4 linked regions of the Homo sapiens genome follow. The protein of the gene in region 1 interacts with the protein of each later gene in a pairwise test. Each region holds a gene or a part of one and is shown on either strand. Other genes may lie near its edges.

The links. The genes of interacting proteins can lie anywhere in the genome.
Region 2: the proteins of LASP1 (region 1) and FAM168B interact in binary tests that used the Homo sapiens proteins (3 or more experiments, as listed by UniProt).
Region 3: the proteins of LASP1 (region 1) and ARHGEF16 interact in binary tests that used the Homo sapiens proteins (3 or more experiments, as listed by UniProt).
Region 4: the proteins of LASP1 (region 1) and RNF38 interact in binary tests that used the Homo sapiens proteins (3 or more experiments, as listed by UniProt).

Annotation. Positions count from the first base shown.
Region 1 is NC_000017.11:38,876,343-38,880,376, reverse strand, and holds part of LASP1 (LIM and SH3 domain protein 1), read right to left. Parts: intron 2,292-4,034; coding exon 2,197-2,291; intron 1-2,196. UniProt on the Homo sapiens protein: Plays an important role in the regulation of dynamic actin-based, cytoskeletal activities.
Region 2 is NC_000002.12:131,069,179-131,073,212, forward strand, and holds part of FAM168B (myelin-associated neurite-outgrowth inhibitor), read right to left. Parts: exon of another isoform or gene 2,844-4,034; intron 2,761-2,843; coding exon 2,677-2,760; intron 1-2,676. UniProt on the Homo sapiens protein: Inhibitor of neuronal axonal outgrowth. Acts as a negative regulator of CDC42 and STAT3 and a positive regulator of STMN2. Positive regulator of CDC27.
Region 3 is NC_000001.11:3,460,913-3,464,946, reverse strand, and holds part of ARHGEF16 (rho guanine nucleotide exchange factor 16), read right to left. Parts: intron 1,882-4,034; coding exon of another isoform or gene 1,863-1,881; coding exon 1,275-1,862; intron 1-1,274. UniProt on the Homo sapiens protein: Guanyl-nucleotide exchange factor of the RHOG GTPase stimulating the exchange of RHOG-associated GDP for GTP. May play a role in chemotactic cell migration by mediating the activation of RAC1 by EPHA2.
Region 4 is NC_000009.12:36,393,488-36,397,521, forward strand, and holds part of RNF38 (E3 ubiquitin-protein ligase RNF38), read right to left. Parts: intron 2,001-4,034; exon of another isoform or gene 1,917-2,000; intron 128-1,916; exon of another isoform or gene 74-127; intron 1-73. UniProt on the Homo sapiens protein: Acts as an E3 ubiquitin-protein ligase able to ubiquitinate p53/TP53 which promotes its relocalization to discrete foci associated with PML nuclear bodies. Exhibits preference for UBE2D2 as a E2 enzyme.

The DNA of each region.
Region 1 (4,034 bases):
CCACCCAACCTTGTGGCAGCTTCCCAAGAAGACAGTAAAAACAGTAAGCTGGAACTTTGGATGAGGCTGATAAAACGCAGAGAAAACAAGGACAAGCCTCTGATTTTTCTCCAGCTCCCAGTGCTCACTGAATTCTAGGCTGCTTGAGTCACTGGGCTCCAAGGCTCGGTCAGACTTCTGCGTGCTGGGGCGGAGGCTCAGAATCTAGCCTGAGGTGGTCCAGCAACGGAGGGGTTAACTGCCCTGGCTTCTCTGAACCCCACCCCACTACCCAATGGAGGGAGGAAGTGGCAGAGAACCAGGGCTTGTGTGAGCCCTTAAGAATTCGAAGAATGTCCCATTTCCCTTGTGGGGGTGGGAGGGGTTGGTAGGGGGAAGAGGAACAGTAGAAATTAATAGAAGAGAAGGGGCAGCTGAAGGAGGGGCCAGGACAGAGCTGCAACCCTTCCTTTACCCAGATAACCTGCCCAGTGCCCTCCTTCTTCCAGAAGGGACAACTTCATGTTGCTTCTTGGGCTTGAGATTTTTATCAGGAATCTGTTTTCCCAGCACCTGGTGCAGGTTAGTATGTATTATAGCAGCAGGCAGGCAATAAATGTCTGCTGAATGAGCGAGCCCCTAAAAAGATGAAAGAGTGGTCTTAGCCAGGGAACGGGAGGGGGTAAGGAAGCAAGGAAGGTTTGGGGTAAGGTTAGGGGTAAGGCTGGAGGTTTAAGCCCCCTTTTTAGACAAGTCCCAAATTTTTTTTTCCCTGGGTGAACTTCAGCTGCAAAGAGCCTCCTGACTGAGAATTAAGAGAAAAAAAAAAAAAACTGGACTCAAGTCAGATCCTAAATTCATGTGAACACTGAAATTACCATTACTTGAGTTGGTTGAAGTTAAAAAAAAAAAAGTTAAAATTAAAAAAAAAATCGAATTAAGGCTGGGCGAGGTGGCTTATACCTGTAATCCCAGCACTTTGGGAGGCTGAGGCGGTGCATCACTTGAGGTCAGGAGTTCGAGACCAGCCTGGCCAACACGGTGAAACCCCGGTCTCTACTAAAAAATACAAAAATTAGCTGGGCATGGTAGCATGCATCTGTAATCCCAGCTACTCAGGAGGCTTAGGTACAAGAATCGCTTGAATCCAAGAGGCGGAGGTTGCAGTGAGCCAAGATCGCGCCACTGCACTCCAACCTGGGTGATGAGTCCTCTGACTCAAAAAAAAAAAAAAAAGCAAATTAAAAGAAAAAGAAATTATCATTACATCATTACTTATAAGTGACTTGACCTTCCAAAGCCTCCACCTCGCAGGTGGAGGCGGCTGTGAGGCCCCAACACTGAGTTTGTACTTGCTACTCACAAGGTCAATTGGAAGATGGAAAATTGCTGTACTTTCTGGGATTGCATGGGATGGGATGGGATGGGATGGGAGGGGAGGTATTCCTCCAGGCTCTGGGATGGGGGACCCCACCTCTATACTCCCTCCCTACCGTCAGCTGCTGCAGGTCCCAGTGCAGAAGGAACAGAGCTGCACTATACTCAAGATGACTATACTCAAAAGAAACAGTCTCCACAGCCTCCCTCACCAGGCAGGGAAGAGATCTATCTGGCCCAGGCAACACCCTTTATGCACCCCTGCCCATTCTCAAAAAATGAACACCAAAAGGGCTGGCATGAGGCTTCCAGAGAGTTTTCTTGAAGGAACCACTGGAGGAAGGAGCCCCCAAAGCCTAGAAGTACCCAGGTGAGAGAAGGAAACTGTCGATTTTGAGGAGAGAAATAAGGGAAGGTAAACAGAACAAAGTCCTCAACCCCAAATACAACAGACACGTCACTCATTCTTGAAAGACCACGAGGAAAGCCCCCTCTTTTGTAGCAGGGGACAGTGGAAAGAAACGTGCTCGCCTTACTGCCCGAAATTGGGTTAGAGCCTGTCTTGCCCTAGCCATCCCACCTTGAGAGTCTCTTCCCTTCCCTAAGCCCCAGTTTCCTCATCTGTACTTTAAATGCACTTTAAATGGGGGATAAAAGCACTTTAAATGGGGATAAAAAGTGCTTGCTTCATTCAGCTGTTGTGAGGACAAACTGTGATGTTCAAGTAGGGGATGGAAGTGTTCGCCAATGTCACCTTGCGGTTATTGGAAGGAAAGGAAGAACTCACTCGGGGAGGGAGCCAAGGTGCCCACCCAGCCCCCTGCCCAGAACAGGACTCACGCGTTGCAGTAGGGCTTCTTCTCGTAGCCCTTGTAGTTCTTCATGTTCAGTGTCATCTTGCAGGTCTCGCAATGGAAGCATGCTTTATGCCAGAACTGGGGATGGAGACAGGAGGACATACATCAGATACCAGGACTTCTGAAAAAGGGGCTCAGGCCCTAGGAAGGGGCACTCAGGAGCTGCTGGGACTGTCCTAGGCCCATGGCTGTGGGGAGAACATGGAATCATCCCAGGTGAGCTGGGGGCATTTCAGGTCACAGGCTTTGGCACTCCCCTCCCCTCTCTCCTTCCTCATCCTCCACCAATGGGCCATTTGAACCCAGGAGGAAGAGACAGGCAGGCATGAAGGACAGGGGGGAAGAGCCCAGTTATAGCAGTGGCAGCAGCCCCCAAGTCAGCTCCACCCTCCCCAGGGAACCCCTCCTGCCCAGAGCTGGCGAGGCCTCATTGCTTATGCAAAGCTGCGCTGGGTTGCTAGGGAGCAGCCGCTGAACATGAAGGAGCAGCTCCTCTGGTGGCACCAAGGCCTCAGAAGAGGAAGGCCCAGCCCCCACACACCCAGGCCCAGAACCCAGGTGCTCCTAGCTCCTGTACCAGGGCCCAGCACACCCACCAGCCCCACATGAGCCCCAGGTGGTGCTACAGCTCCGATACCTCCCACTTCCTGTGGGATGCCTGGCCAGAGGAGTGGGCTGGGTGTCCCAGGCTCTGTCAACACAACACATCCTTTCTACCCTTCCCTCATCCTCTCCCACCCCAGGAGGAGGGCAGGAGAGCACCCGGCAGCGGGTCTCCCACTGAGGCACTGAAGGGCTCTACTTCAAAGCCTTGAAGGTGGACACCCCTATAGTGGACATCAAAGCTCTACCCCACTAACTGTATGGCCTTGGGCGGGGCCCTGCACCTCAGAGGAGCCCACTTCCTGGTGTGTACAATGGATGTAATAACACCTGGCCCTCCTGGGATTGTCCAGGACTGAGGAGAAATCACCTTCAAAGCCCTCAGCACAGCACTTGGCACCTCTGAGCACTCAGATGTCAGGTGCTGGGCACAGCAGGTGTGAACCTTAGCCGAGGGGGTCAGGGCTCACACTGGAGATTGTGTGTGTTGGGGTGCAGAGGGGCTTCACTGTGCCAACCACAGCTCCAATCCATTCATGCGTGTGAGAATGTGGGACACGGCCGGGCACGGTGGCTCACGCCTGTAATCCCGCACTTTGGGAGGCCGAGGCGGGCGGATCATGAGGTCAAGAGATCGAGACCATCCTGGCTAACATGGTGAAACCCCATCTCTACTAAAAAGACAAAAAAATTAGCCAGGCGTGGTGGCGGGTGCCTGTAGTCCCAGCTACTTGGGAGGCTGAGGCAGGAGAATGGCGTGAACCCAGGCCACTGCACTCCAGTCTGGGTGACAGAGCAAGACTCCGTCTCAAAAAAAAAAAAGAGAATGTGGGACACAGGGCCCATCCAGGGTGGCCGACGGAGGGAAGAGAGTGATGACAGAAAGAGAACAGATCTAGCCGGGAGCGGTGGCTCACGCCTATAATCCGAGCACTTCGGGAGGCTGTGGCAGGCGGATTACTGGAGGTTGGGAGTTCAAGACCAGCCTGGCCAACATGGTGAAACCCCGTATCTACTAAAAATACAAAAAAATTAGCCGGGTGCAGTGACGGCGTGCCTGTAATCCCAGCTACTCGGGAGGCTGAGGCAGGAGAATCGCTTGAACCCAGGAGGCAGAGATTGCGGTGAGCTGAGATCATGCCACTGCACTCCAGCCTGGGGTATAGAGCGAGACTTAATCTCAAAAATAAATAAATAAATAAATAAATAAATAAATAG
Region 2 (4,034 bases), on another chromosome or scaffold:
TCTTGTAAAATAAAAAAGTTGAAAGTTTTAAGTACATTTTCACACTGATTTGTGCTCCATGAAGAAATGAGTAAAAGTGGGCTACCTCTGAAAATCCTAGAAGAGTAACTTACGTTATGGTGGTCTACGGCATGATCATCACATGCCACATTGATACGTATGCCAAAGATATAAACTTCAATCCATTCCTACCATCATACACAAAAATTAACTGCAAATGGGTCACAGACATAAATGTAAAACCTACAAGTGTAAAACTTCTACAAGAAAAAAGAAGAAAATCTTTGTGAAGTTAGGTTACACAGGTTTCTTTCTCTTTTGTTTTTTTTTTTGGGGACGGAGTCCTGCTCTGTCGCTCAGGCTGGAGTGCAGTGGCGCAATCTCGGCTCACTGCAAGCTCCGCCTTCCAGGTTCTGGCCATTCTCCTGCCTCAGCCTCTGGAGTAGCTGGGACTACAGGAGCCCGCCACCATGACCAGCTAATTTTTTGTATTTTTAGTAGAGAGGGGGTTTCACCGCGTTAGCCAGGATGGTCTCGATCTCCTGACCTCATGATCCACCCACCCCGGCCTCCCAAAGTGCTGGGACGACAGGCGTGAGCCACTGCGCCCAGCCAAGTTACACAGGTTTATTAAGTATGGTACCAAAAGCATGATCCATAAAACGACTAACCCTCATCAAACTTTTTTTTTTTTGGTTGAGACGGAGTCTCACCCTGTCGCCCAGGCTGGAATGCTATGGCACGATCTCGGCTCACTGCAACCTCTGTCTCCTGGGTTCAAGTGATTCTCCTGCCTCAGCCTCCCTAGTAGCCGGGATTACCGGAGTGCGCCTCCAAGCCCAGCTAATTTTTGTATTTTTAGTAGAGACGGGGTTTCACCACGTTGGCCAGGCTGGTCTCGAACTCCTGACCTCATGATCCACCCGCCTCAGCCTCCCAAATTGCTGGGATTACAGACGTGAGCCACCGCGCCCAGCCTAAACTTTTAAAACCCCTGCTCTTTAAAAGACGTTGTTAAAAGAATGAAAAAGCCACAGACTGGGAGAAAACACGCATATATCTGATAAGAACTCTCAAAAACTCAACGATAAGAAAACAATAACTGACATACAGTAAAAGCAAATTCTTCACCAAAGACATACAGAAGGCAAATACGCACATGAAAAGATACTGCTACACATTCACTAGAATGGCTAGAATTAAAAAGACTGACCACACCAAGTGTTGTTAAGGATGTGGAGGAACGACAACTCACAAACACTGCTGGTAGGAATGTAAAATGGTACCACCACTTTGGAAGACAGTTTGGCAGTTTCTCACAAAGTTAAATATACACTTGCCATAATAACCAGCCACTCAAATCCTCTGTATTTATTTACTCAAGAGAAATCAAAGTGTATGTTCACACAATAACCTGCATATAAATATTAATAGCATTTTCATTTGTAATAGCCCAAAATTGCAAATAACCCAAATGTTCATCACATGGTAAATGGATAAGCAAACTGAAGTATTTATTTCCATACAACAAAATACTACCTAACAATAAAAAGGAATGAACTGCTAATATACACTACGAGATGGATGGTTCTTTCAAGGCAAAACACAAAAGGAAAACCACTCTAAAGGGAAAAAATGGGCCAATATGGCAAACAGCTAGGGACTGAAAGTCGAGACTCTAGGCATAACTGTGTCTCACAGTCATGGGAAACCACTGAGAAAAATTCATCTGGGAGCATCGCTCTGGTTTAAATGGGAAGAACACTAACCCGGGGAAAGAAAGCTTGGGAGCAGGAAGACCAAGTCAAGAACGTTTTTCTCAGGGTGTGAACTACGGTCTGAACAAGGGTGGTCATATAGGGTCATAGTGGAAGTGGAAATGGAAACGAAGAGATGGATGTAAGGACAGAATATAAAGGCAGAATTTTATGATTAACAAAACAGGAAGAATCTGGGGAAAGGACACTGCTGTTGTCTCCTCCTCTGTCAAAGTTAACTGTGTGAAGCTACTGTTGAGGGATAAAGTTGCCCCAGCAGTCCCAGGATTAAGGCCAAACCACAGCCTCAGATCAGAGTGTGCACCACCACTGCTGCGGCAGAAAGGCAAAGCCCCGTGTGGGTGAAAAAAGTCCAAAAGGAACCAACACCAGAGAGTGCAGGCTCCTAGCAGGAAATCCCACTAAATAACCAATCTCCTCAAGATTCAGACCCAAACCAATTCCACTTTTAATATTAACAGTGATTTCCAAAATCTAAAAATATTCATCTATACATTACATGGAAAATAATACTTTTTTAAAAAATATTATCAGAGTGCTAAAGTAGTCTAACCAAAAATTATCTCTAAAAACATTAACATGGAAATTCCACCTGTTGGCATGGCAAGAAATTCTTCAATTTCTAGTAGGTGATACTATTTCATGAACAGATGCTCTGGCAGAGTTAACAACCTAGTGATTACAGATTTGCCTTGTGGGAGGACATGAGAAACACAGTATATAAAGCTTCAGTGCAGTAAGAATTAAGCTTTTGTTGCACTTATCAACAGGCTAACTTAATGAACTTGAGAAATCGACTCAACCAAGTCCTAATTCTATACCCACCCCTCTCAAAATCCACCCCTTCACCTTTCTCTCCCAGCTGTACGTACAAAGCATTTTACCACCCAGCACATACCTGTTTGGAAGGTAGGATTCGCTCCAGGATACATGTTAGGAGAATAGGCAGGAGCTGCTGCTGCATAGCCCATGGGAAAACCAGCTGAAGAAAAATAAAGAACAATCTCATGTCATCAACTGAAGTAGCGACAATCACTAGAGCTCCTGCAAAGCCATCGCTCTTACCTTCTTCCCCAGAACTCCACAGACTTAAGCAGCCCCAAGAGCACTATGTGTGGCCAACAGCATGTCTCTAGTTGTCTTCTTCCCGCAGAACTTTGTTTTTTTTATCGTTGTCGTCTTTTGAGACAGAGTTTCACTTTCATCGCCCAGGCTGGAGTGCAATGGCATGATCTTGGCTCACTGCAACCTCTGCCTCCCAGGTTCAAGCGATTCTCCTGCCTCAGCCTTCCGAAGAGCTGGGATTACAGGTGTGTGTCACCACACCTGGCTAATTTTTCTATTTTTAGTAGAGACGGGGTTTCATCACGTTAGCCAGGCTGGTCTTGAACTCCTGATTTCAGTTGATCCACCCGCCTCGGCCTCCCAAAGTGCTGGGATTATAGGTGTGAGCCACCACGCCTGGCTTTCCCTCAGAATTTTGATAGGTAACAATTATATATTTTATTTTTATTTATTTTTTGGAGGGGGACAGAGTTTCACTCTTGTTGCCCAGGCTAGAGTGCAGTGGCGCGACCTCGGCTCACTGCAACCTCCGTTTCAAGCGATTCTCCTGCCTCAGCCTTCCGAGTAGCTGGGATTACAGGCATCTACCACCACGCCCAGCTAATTTTTGTATTTTTAGTAGAGACAAGGTTTCACCATGGTGACCAGGCTGGTCTCGAACTCCTGACCTCATGATCCACCCACCTCAGCCTCCCGAAGTGCTGGGATTACAGGCATAAGCCACCGCGCCAAGCCTCAATTATAACATTTCTGGAAGTTTCATTCCAAACTCTAATCACATAATTACTTAGCAAGAGTAGTAAGAGTGCTAAGGGTATCACACGCTAGGTCCTGTTACCCTCATCTGACTTCACTGCACAAAGTCTGGAAGAATCAGAATTCAAGTCTAGCTTGGACTCAAGGGCCTATTTTTGCTGCTACCAGTGAACAGCTAAGCCTATGTAAAGGTCACTCATTTTCACTGAATTCCGACATTTCCTACATTACATATTTTGACTTAAAAGCTATTATTTTTTGTTGTAAGAAACTGTTTTAAACTTCTAAATTCATTTCAGGTTTTTTCACATTCTGATGTTCTTTTTTTTTTCTAAGACAGAGTCTTGCTCTGTTGCCTACGCTGGAGTGCAGTGGTGAGATCTCGGCTCACTGCAACCTCCGCCTCCTGGGTTCAAGCATTTCTCCTGCCTCAGT
Region 3 (4,034 bases), on another chromosome or scaffold:
CACCATCGGCCTGCAGTGGACGCCCATGGGACATTCTGACAGGTGGTCTTGGCGTCTCCTGAGGCTGGCACTGCCACTCCCAGTCTGGGCAGGAGCTGGGCCTGAGGAGGCAGCTGGGACGGCAACCAGTGAAGAAGACGCTCTGGCACACACCTTCCGTGGACACTGCCCAGAGGATGCCCAGAGGGCGGCTGTGATCTTTGCTTCCACATGGGGAAGCCAAGGCTCAGGAAGGTTCAGGAACTCATCTGGGTCACACAGCACCTGCCCCCGCCCTCGTCCTTCACTGAGGCAGCCCATATGCTTGGGGCCTGTTTTCCAACACGTCTGAGCAAGGCGCCCAACAAGAAGGACGCCCCTGGGGCCAGCCCTGCATCTGCTCTGCATTCTTGAGGGTGCTCGGGCTGCCAGGGCCTCCTGATGGGCGGTTCCAGGGCAGCTCGCCTCCCCTACCCCAGCCCTGCCTGAGCCCAGACCCACCAGCTAAAGAGACCAAGCAGGGTGGCCAGAGTCGCAGTCCTGGCTGGGTGGGTGTCCAGGTACCACGCAACTCTCCCTGAACGTGGCTTCCAGCTCCAGGGCTGCCTGAAATGAAGGCCTGGCCCCCAGCCGCAGGGGATGGTGACTCCGAGGATGAGGGACACTGGGCCCAGGAGCCCCAGCTGGACGCTCTGTCCCCTGGGCCCTAGTGACACATGCAGTCAGGCTACACCCTGCCCAGCAAAGGGTCTGCCGCCACCATGCCCCAGACCTAGAGCCACCACCAGCAGGCAGGGAAGCAGGGCTCTGTGTACAGAGGGAATGTGCAGACTTCTCCTAAGCCCCAGGCCACCGCACAGCTGCCCCGCTTCAGTCCCTCCCGCCTGAGTCCCTGTCTGGAGCTGCCGGGGCAGATGGAGCCCAGGCCAGTCACTGCAGCCAGGTCACCCTGAACCCTATCATCCAGGCAGGCCGGCTCCTGTCCAGAGCTCGGAAACAGGGACTGGGCCCTTCCAGGGATCTGCCCTCCACCAAGGCTGGGAGCGGGGACACCAGAGTCTGGGGGCCTCGGTAGAACCCTCGACCTTTCCGAGCCTCTGCTGCCTCATCTGTAAGGTGGGATCTTCACACTCACAGACTGGGCTGAACTGGAATAAACCAGTCGAGAGCCCTCATGCAGCAGGTGCTTACTAACGGCAGCTGCCATGATGCAGAAGATGACGGTGGTGGAGACGGCCAGGCCGCCCCTCTGCCTAGCAGCCCCCTCCCCACGGTCCACACGAGCAGGCCCCTACCTTGTTTTTGGCCGGGCTCCGAGTATGAGGCTGGCTGGGTTCCTCAGCCAGAGCCTGGAGCTTAGGGCTTAGCTGGATGGCATCTCCCTGGCCACCTGGCTTCCCCAGGCCCTTCATGGCCGCCCGGTAGGATTGGTTCCGCAGGTTCCGCCTCAGCATGCCCCCGGGGTCCTTGTCCACGTCCATGTCATCCAGGGAGAAGCTGGGGGCTGGGAGGAGCTTAGGGTCCCGCCGGGCGGCCTCCCTGCTAAGTACAGCCGCCCCGAAGCTCTGGTGGCGGGCTGGGGTCTTTGCCTTGCTGGCCACAGCCAGGCTCTTAGGGATCAGCTGTTGGGTGCCCAGCTTGAGGGCCGCCGGGCTCTCTGTGCTCAGGACGATGGGCCATGGCTCCTCGTGCCCCGGGGGCCGAGGCTGTGGGGGTGCCGGGACCTGGGGCTGGAAGGCGGCATCGTCTCTAACACGCGGGGAGCCACGGACCATTGGGAGCCCGGAGGCTGGGTTCCCCCCGGCATCGAGCCGGAGCTCCGAGTGGAAGCGGTGTCCCAGGAGCTTCTCCTCCAAGGAGCTGTCTGAGTGCCGCTGGGCCATGCTGGGCGGCTGTGGGGTCCTGGGGGAAGGGCAGAAGTGAGGTCTCGTGAGGCTGCTCTCCCCTGCCCCCGCGGGTGTCCACCCCCCTACCCCTTTGCATATGTCTGGCCGGGGCTCCAGTACAGCTCCCAGGACACAGCAGGCAAGGACAGCGACGCAGCCAGGAGCACAGTGGATCAGTGGCACAGCCAGTCCTGACCACTGGGAGCCAGCCATGTCTGAGGCCGGAGGCTGGACACAGGATGGGACTGGGCAGGCGCTGGTTCTCCGAGCTCCAAGGGACCAGGTGGGCACAGCCTATGGGGGTAGGCTGGACCTTGGAGGTTGGGAGGCCACACTGCTTCCTCTGATGGGCAGCACGCACTGAGGACACATTCCTGAGCCTGGAGGCAGGTGGGGCAGCTCAGGTGCATGGCCCTGGAGCCCTGAAGACCTGGCCTGGAATCCTGGCTCACACCTGGCAGCCATGCAGCCTCCTGGAACCACTTCCTCGTGGTGAACGCAAGGGTCATGGCGTTGCACTGGGGGGCTTCCTGAGGCCGGCATCAGCCACAGCGGCAGTGACCACAGCCTCTGCCTCATTGGGGTCTTCCAGGCACCTGAGCCAGGCTCTGCTGGGTTGGGGGGAGGGCAGGTGCATTTGCCCACATGCTCCCGGCCCGAGCCCAGGCCTGTGTGATTCCCCTCTCTTAGCCACACAGTGATATGACTGTCGCGGACTGTCCATGGAACCTTTCCACACACCAGGCAACACGCTTGCATTTTTCCACGTTTCTGAACTGGGCATAAAGCTGACAATTCTGGTCTCAGGAGCCCCACCAGTCACCAGCCCGAGAGTCCAGTATGACACCTGGCCACTGGGCAGGTGTGGTGGTGGCAGGGGTGGCAGCCCACAGTCCCACGTACACCCCCCAGCAGAGAGCGGGAGCTGCCCTGTAGACATCTCTGTAGCCCGATCCCCACACCCCGTGGGCTGCCCCGCCCCCGCCACACTCCTGCCCGCCCCTCCTGGCAGCGCGTGCCCCCGAGCCCATCTCTACCCCACTGTTCCCTTCATGGTCCGGGGCTGGCACCCTGCCCCTGACACTACTGCTTCCCATTTCTCACTTTCCTCCTTCCAGACCCGAGGCAGGGCTGCCCTTCTGCCCCTTGGGAATGGCACAGTCCTGAGACTGGCTTTGGGACATACGTGCCTGCCAGGTAGGAATGTGGAGAGCCAGCTCTCGACCTGCCTCTGCGTCTTCCCTGGCTGCCATGACTATAGGCACGCGTGGCCAGGCAGAGCCTCAATGGCCTGGACCCCGTGTGACCGAGATGTGCAGAGCCCCCAGCCGACACGGCCTCCAGGAGCCGGGCCCAGAGGTCTGTTTCCAGGCACTTTGCGGGGCTGTTGTGGCTACACATCACCTCCTGAGTGACGGCGCATTGCTCGGCCACAGCGGTCAGGCCCACAGTGAGCTTTCACGCCCCGGGCTGCTTGCAACCCCCCTGGGCACTTGCAACCCTCAGGCCACTGAGCAATGGATTCCGAGGGTCTGGTCTCTCAGGCCTCCCAGCTTTCCCCTCTGCTGCTCAGGGGCTCCCCACACGTGTCAGGGAGCAGCCCTGACCCAGGCATGTGGTCAATGAGCAAGTGACGCTGCCTCTCCGTGCCTCAGTTTCAAAATCTGCAAAATGGGCATGATAAGAGCAAGGCCCACCTCCTGAAGGTACGGTGGGAAGTGTAAAGCGTGCAAAGCGTGTAACAGGCCTGGCCGGTGTGAGGCCTGCGTCTGCGCCGCAGTGACCAAGGCCTTGCCGAATCACAGACAAGCTCATGCTCCCTATGCTCAGGGAGCTTCGTAGGTTCAAAAGGTAACGACATGGAGAAAACTCGCTGCTTTCATTCTTTCCCTTTTAAAAAATAAAGATAAAAACAATAACCACCACCACTCAGTATGCCTCCTATACACCCAGAACGTCACACACATGAAAATGACCGGAGTCTCTTGCGGGTGGAAACTGATTTTTCTGATGGGAAAACAAGGCTGAGTCACTCGCCCAAAGTCACTTCCTGCAGGGAGGTTGCCTACAGTCAGCCACACAACTGACCTGGATTAGCACCTTTGGAGTGTCCACAGGGCACCTGGGACACCCCTCTGTCCCTGCTCAGCCCCGGGAGCCACCAAACTC
Region 4 (4,034 bases), on another chromosome or scaffold:
TGTGTGTGTGTGTGTGTGTGTGTGTGTGTGTGTGTGGGGCAGGCAGTCCCATACATAGGTTGCCCAAGATTACCTCTGGTGTCCATCTCCTGTACAACCCCCTTCCCCATGTGCGCAGGCAGGGCTGTGAATGTGATGTATTTCATTCCCATTATTAGGTTAAATCATATGACAAAGGAGGAAAGACGTTCAGATGTAATGAAGATTCCAAGTAAGGTGAATTCAAGCTAAAGACAGATTATCCTGGGTGAGCCTGGGCATGACTTAATCAGAGAAAGCAGAACTGAGTCCTTCCCAAGAGATTCTCTTGCCAATTCTTCAGACTAAGATGTTGTGAGAAGGCATGCGAAAGGTACCATGTGGCAGGGGCTTGAGGGCAGCTTCTAGGAGCTGAAAGCAGTCACCAGTTGACGACCAGCAAGAAATGGGGGACCTCAGTCCTATAATCACAAGAACCACATTCTACCAGTGAACTTGGAAGGAGACACGGATGAAATCACAGCTCTGGGCCGGGTACAGTGGCTCACGCCTGTAATCCCAGCACTTTGGGAGGCCGAGGCGGGCAGATCACAAGGTCAAGAGATAGAGACCAACCTGGCCAACATGATGAAACCCCATCTCTACTAAAAATACAAAAATTAGCTGGGCGTGGTGGCGCACACCTGTAGTCCCAGCTACTTGGGAGGCTGAGGCAGGAGAATCACTTGAATCCGGGAGGTGGAGGTTGCAGTGAGCCAAGATCGTGCCACTGCACTCCAGCCTGGCGACAGAGCAAGACTGTCTCAAAAAAAAAAAGAAAAGAAAGAAATCACAGCTCCTGCAAGGTAAGACCCTGGGGGCCCAGCAGCTAACCCCATACCAGGACTCCTGATTCATGGAAATTGTAAGGAAATATTTGTGTTTTAAACAAATAAATTTGTAGTAATTTGTTACAGAAAACACAATGTGTATGTATATAACTTGAATAAAAATTATTGTACCACAGTGAAAAAGTTTCTTCTCCAGAATTTTGGCTACACTGATTTGATTACAAAAGATATAAAAATTAACACATTTTTATTTAAGCAGTATAGCAGGTTTTAAAGCCTCAATCTGGTAACAGCTAGCTTCATGCCAGAAACTGAACTGGGCTCTCCCATCTTTATACACTGAACATCAGGTTTAACAGACTTGCTTAAAGTCACATACCTCAGAAATATCAAAACCATAATCTGAACTCAAGTCTATCGAATTCTAAGGTTCATACTCAACCCACAAAACCACCTTCTACTTTAAAGTAACATTCTTTTTTATAATCTAGTTTGATTAGTAAGTATCAACTATTCCACCAGGCCTATTTAAAACCATTTTTAGTACTTAAAAATAAACTTGTTTCCTGAAAACTGATATAATTTTTCTCTAGGCTGGCAACTTTTCAGCATTACAGATTTGCTAACTCTGGCTTTCTCCCAGAATGCAACCTGTATTTAAAAAGTCCTGCCAAGGAAACATCCTGAGACCACATTAAGTCTGCAACTCCCAAAACTTATCATGTTTAATGTCTATTTCCATATAATCATATGACTAATTCATTAAGCATAACTAAGAAAACCCTATTTCACAAAACTAAAGTTTACAGAAAACAGTTTAACCTTTTAAGCATCAACACTACTATTTTAGGACATCCTTTGTTTAATCTGGCCATTCTGTGTTTTGGTAACATAACCAACAATTTAACTTTTCTTGGAGACTTGCAGGTATTATTAGTAATTATCGCACTAAAATTAGCACTTAGGACAAGACACTGTCCCAAAACATTTAAAATTGCTTCTGACAACAGCATCCTTCTTCGTTCATTTCCTTTTTTTTTTTTCTCCAGTAAAAGTGAGAGAGAGGATACAGGTACATGACTTCTAAGCCAGTATGACATAACGTACTTCTACAAAATAAGGTGTTCACGAAGGCCCACAAAGCATTCTTCAGCATACCAACTGGTCGGTCAAAAGCACTAAAATCACAGCCTAATATAAAAGACGAAAACAAAACATTAGATGAGGAGTCAGGTGCTTAGTGTCACCTCTAGCTACAAGTCTGGTTATCTGTAAAATAAAGTCAAATCCAAAACTCCAAATATTCTCACCACTTCCATGATAGCAACTGTTAATCTCTTGGAAGTAATTAGGTAGATTAATAATTTAAAAAACATGTTTGAATCTCTAATATTTAAACTGACAAATTATCAGGTTATATACCAAAATACGAGAAAAGCCATATGCATGAATATGGTCACCACAGCACAATAATAGCGACAATTTAAAAGGTAACTAGAAGCAACCTAAATGTTTAACAAATACTTGCTAAGTAAAATTACGGTACACTTGCTTGAACTATGCAGCCATTAAAAAGTAGCAACCAGAAACACTACTACTTGGGGGAGGAGAAAATTATTTAAATGCTATGATCATAAGGTAGGGTTATATATGAACAGGACTTCATAAATTCAAGAAAAAAGTTATCTTGGAATATTAGGAAGAAAAACAGAGAACTCCCTATAAAGATTAAATAGAGCAGCCAAATCAATGAGGTGACTTGAGCATACACTCAGGAGAACATGTATAAGCTCCATGTCCTGTTCAGCACAATGTCACTAACACCTAGAAGAGTACATGGCACATAGCAGGCATTCAACTATTTATTAAAAGAATAATCTTCCAAACTGTAAGCAAATGATGTAACAGCCTGCCTTTCTGATTTGTGTAACAAGTTTCTTAGAAATCTGGTTGGCAATGAGACAAGCTAAAAGCTTTGATCAAGGAAGAGATCTGATGCACTCACCTGCAGGTTACCATTAAATGAAGTCAGTGGTTGCCCAGTAAGTCCACCCCATCCTACTGAGGCAGAATAAATCATTGAGCTACTGATGCATGCTGTGCTCCTTGCTAGGATTTTTTTTTTTCCCTGTTCTGAGAATAAACTAGACCTAAATGTCACCTTTCCTTTGAGAAGAGTTCTATCACTGGGCCTAAAACAAATCTGTTTCCTTGGCTTTTGTTTTCTGGGAGCAGAGTTCTCTGAAAGGATTTTGACAGTGTGGAGCAGGGGTACTCAAAGTCCCGGATGGCATTCTTCAAAGCTGGTCCAGGAGAGAACACTGCAAACAGGAATGGGACTGTGCACGCTTAGAGTTATGCAAAAGGCAGGCCTGGATGGGCACAGGGATCTTTGGGGGATGACAGAAATGTTCAAAATGTAACCAAAAAAATCTAATTGAATGGAGTGAATTTTATGGTATATAAAACATAACTTAATAAAGCTTCTTTAAAAAAAAAAATCGAGAGCCTGGTTCTGGAAAACTGAGGTCCAAACACTGGGTAGAACTGACCCTCTGAGATGTTACTACCCTTTGAGATCCAAGACAAAATTTCTAAGTCATTCATCTCTAAGCTTCAACAGTTCTCATACACAAATGACACATGAAAAAGACTGAAAGGAATAAAAAAAAAATCATTCTCTCACTACACAACGGTCACAATTTGCTTTATATATGTGTGTGTGTGTGTATATACGTATATACGTATATACACATGTATATATACGTATATATATGTGTGTGTGTATATATATATATATATGTTTTGTTTTTTTTTTTTTGAGACAGAGCTTTGCTCTTGTTGCCCAGGGTGGAGTGCAGTGGCGCAATCCTGACTCGCACAATCCTGACTCACTGCAGTCTTCACCTCCTGGGTTCAAGCAATTCTCCTGCTTCAGCCTCCAGAGTAGCGGATTACAGGTGCTGGTCACCACACCCGACTAATTTTTTTATTTTTAGTAGAGACAGGATTTCATCATATTATTCAGGCTGGTTTCAAACTCCTGACCTCAGGTGATCCACCAACCTCGGCCTCCCAAAGTGCTGGGATTACAGGCGTGAGCTAAAAAATAATTTAAAAATAATTTTGAAAAGCTAATAGGCAGTATTAGGAGAAACCATTCAAGGACTGGTACTATGTGGGTGAGGATGTTCATTACTGCCCAGCACCGGACAATCATTTCTA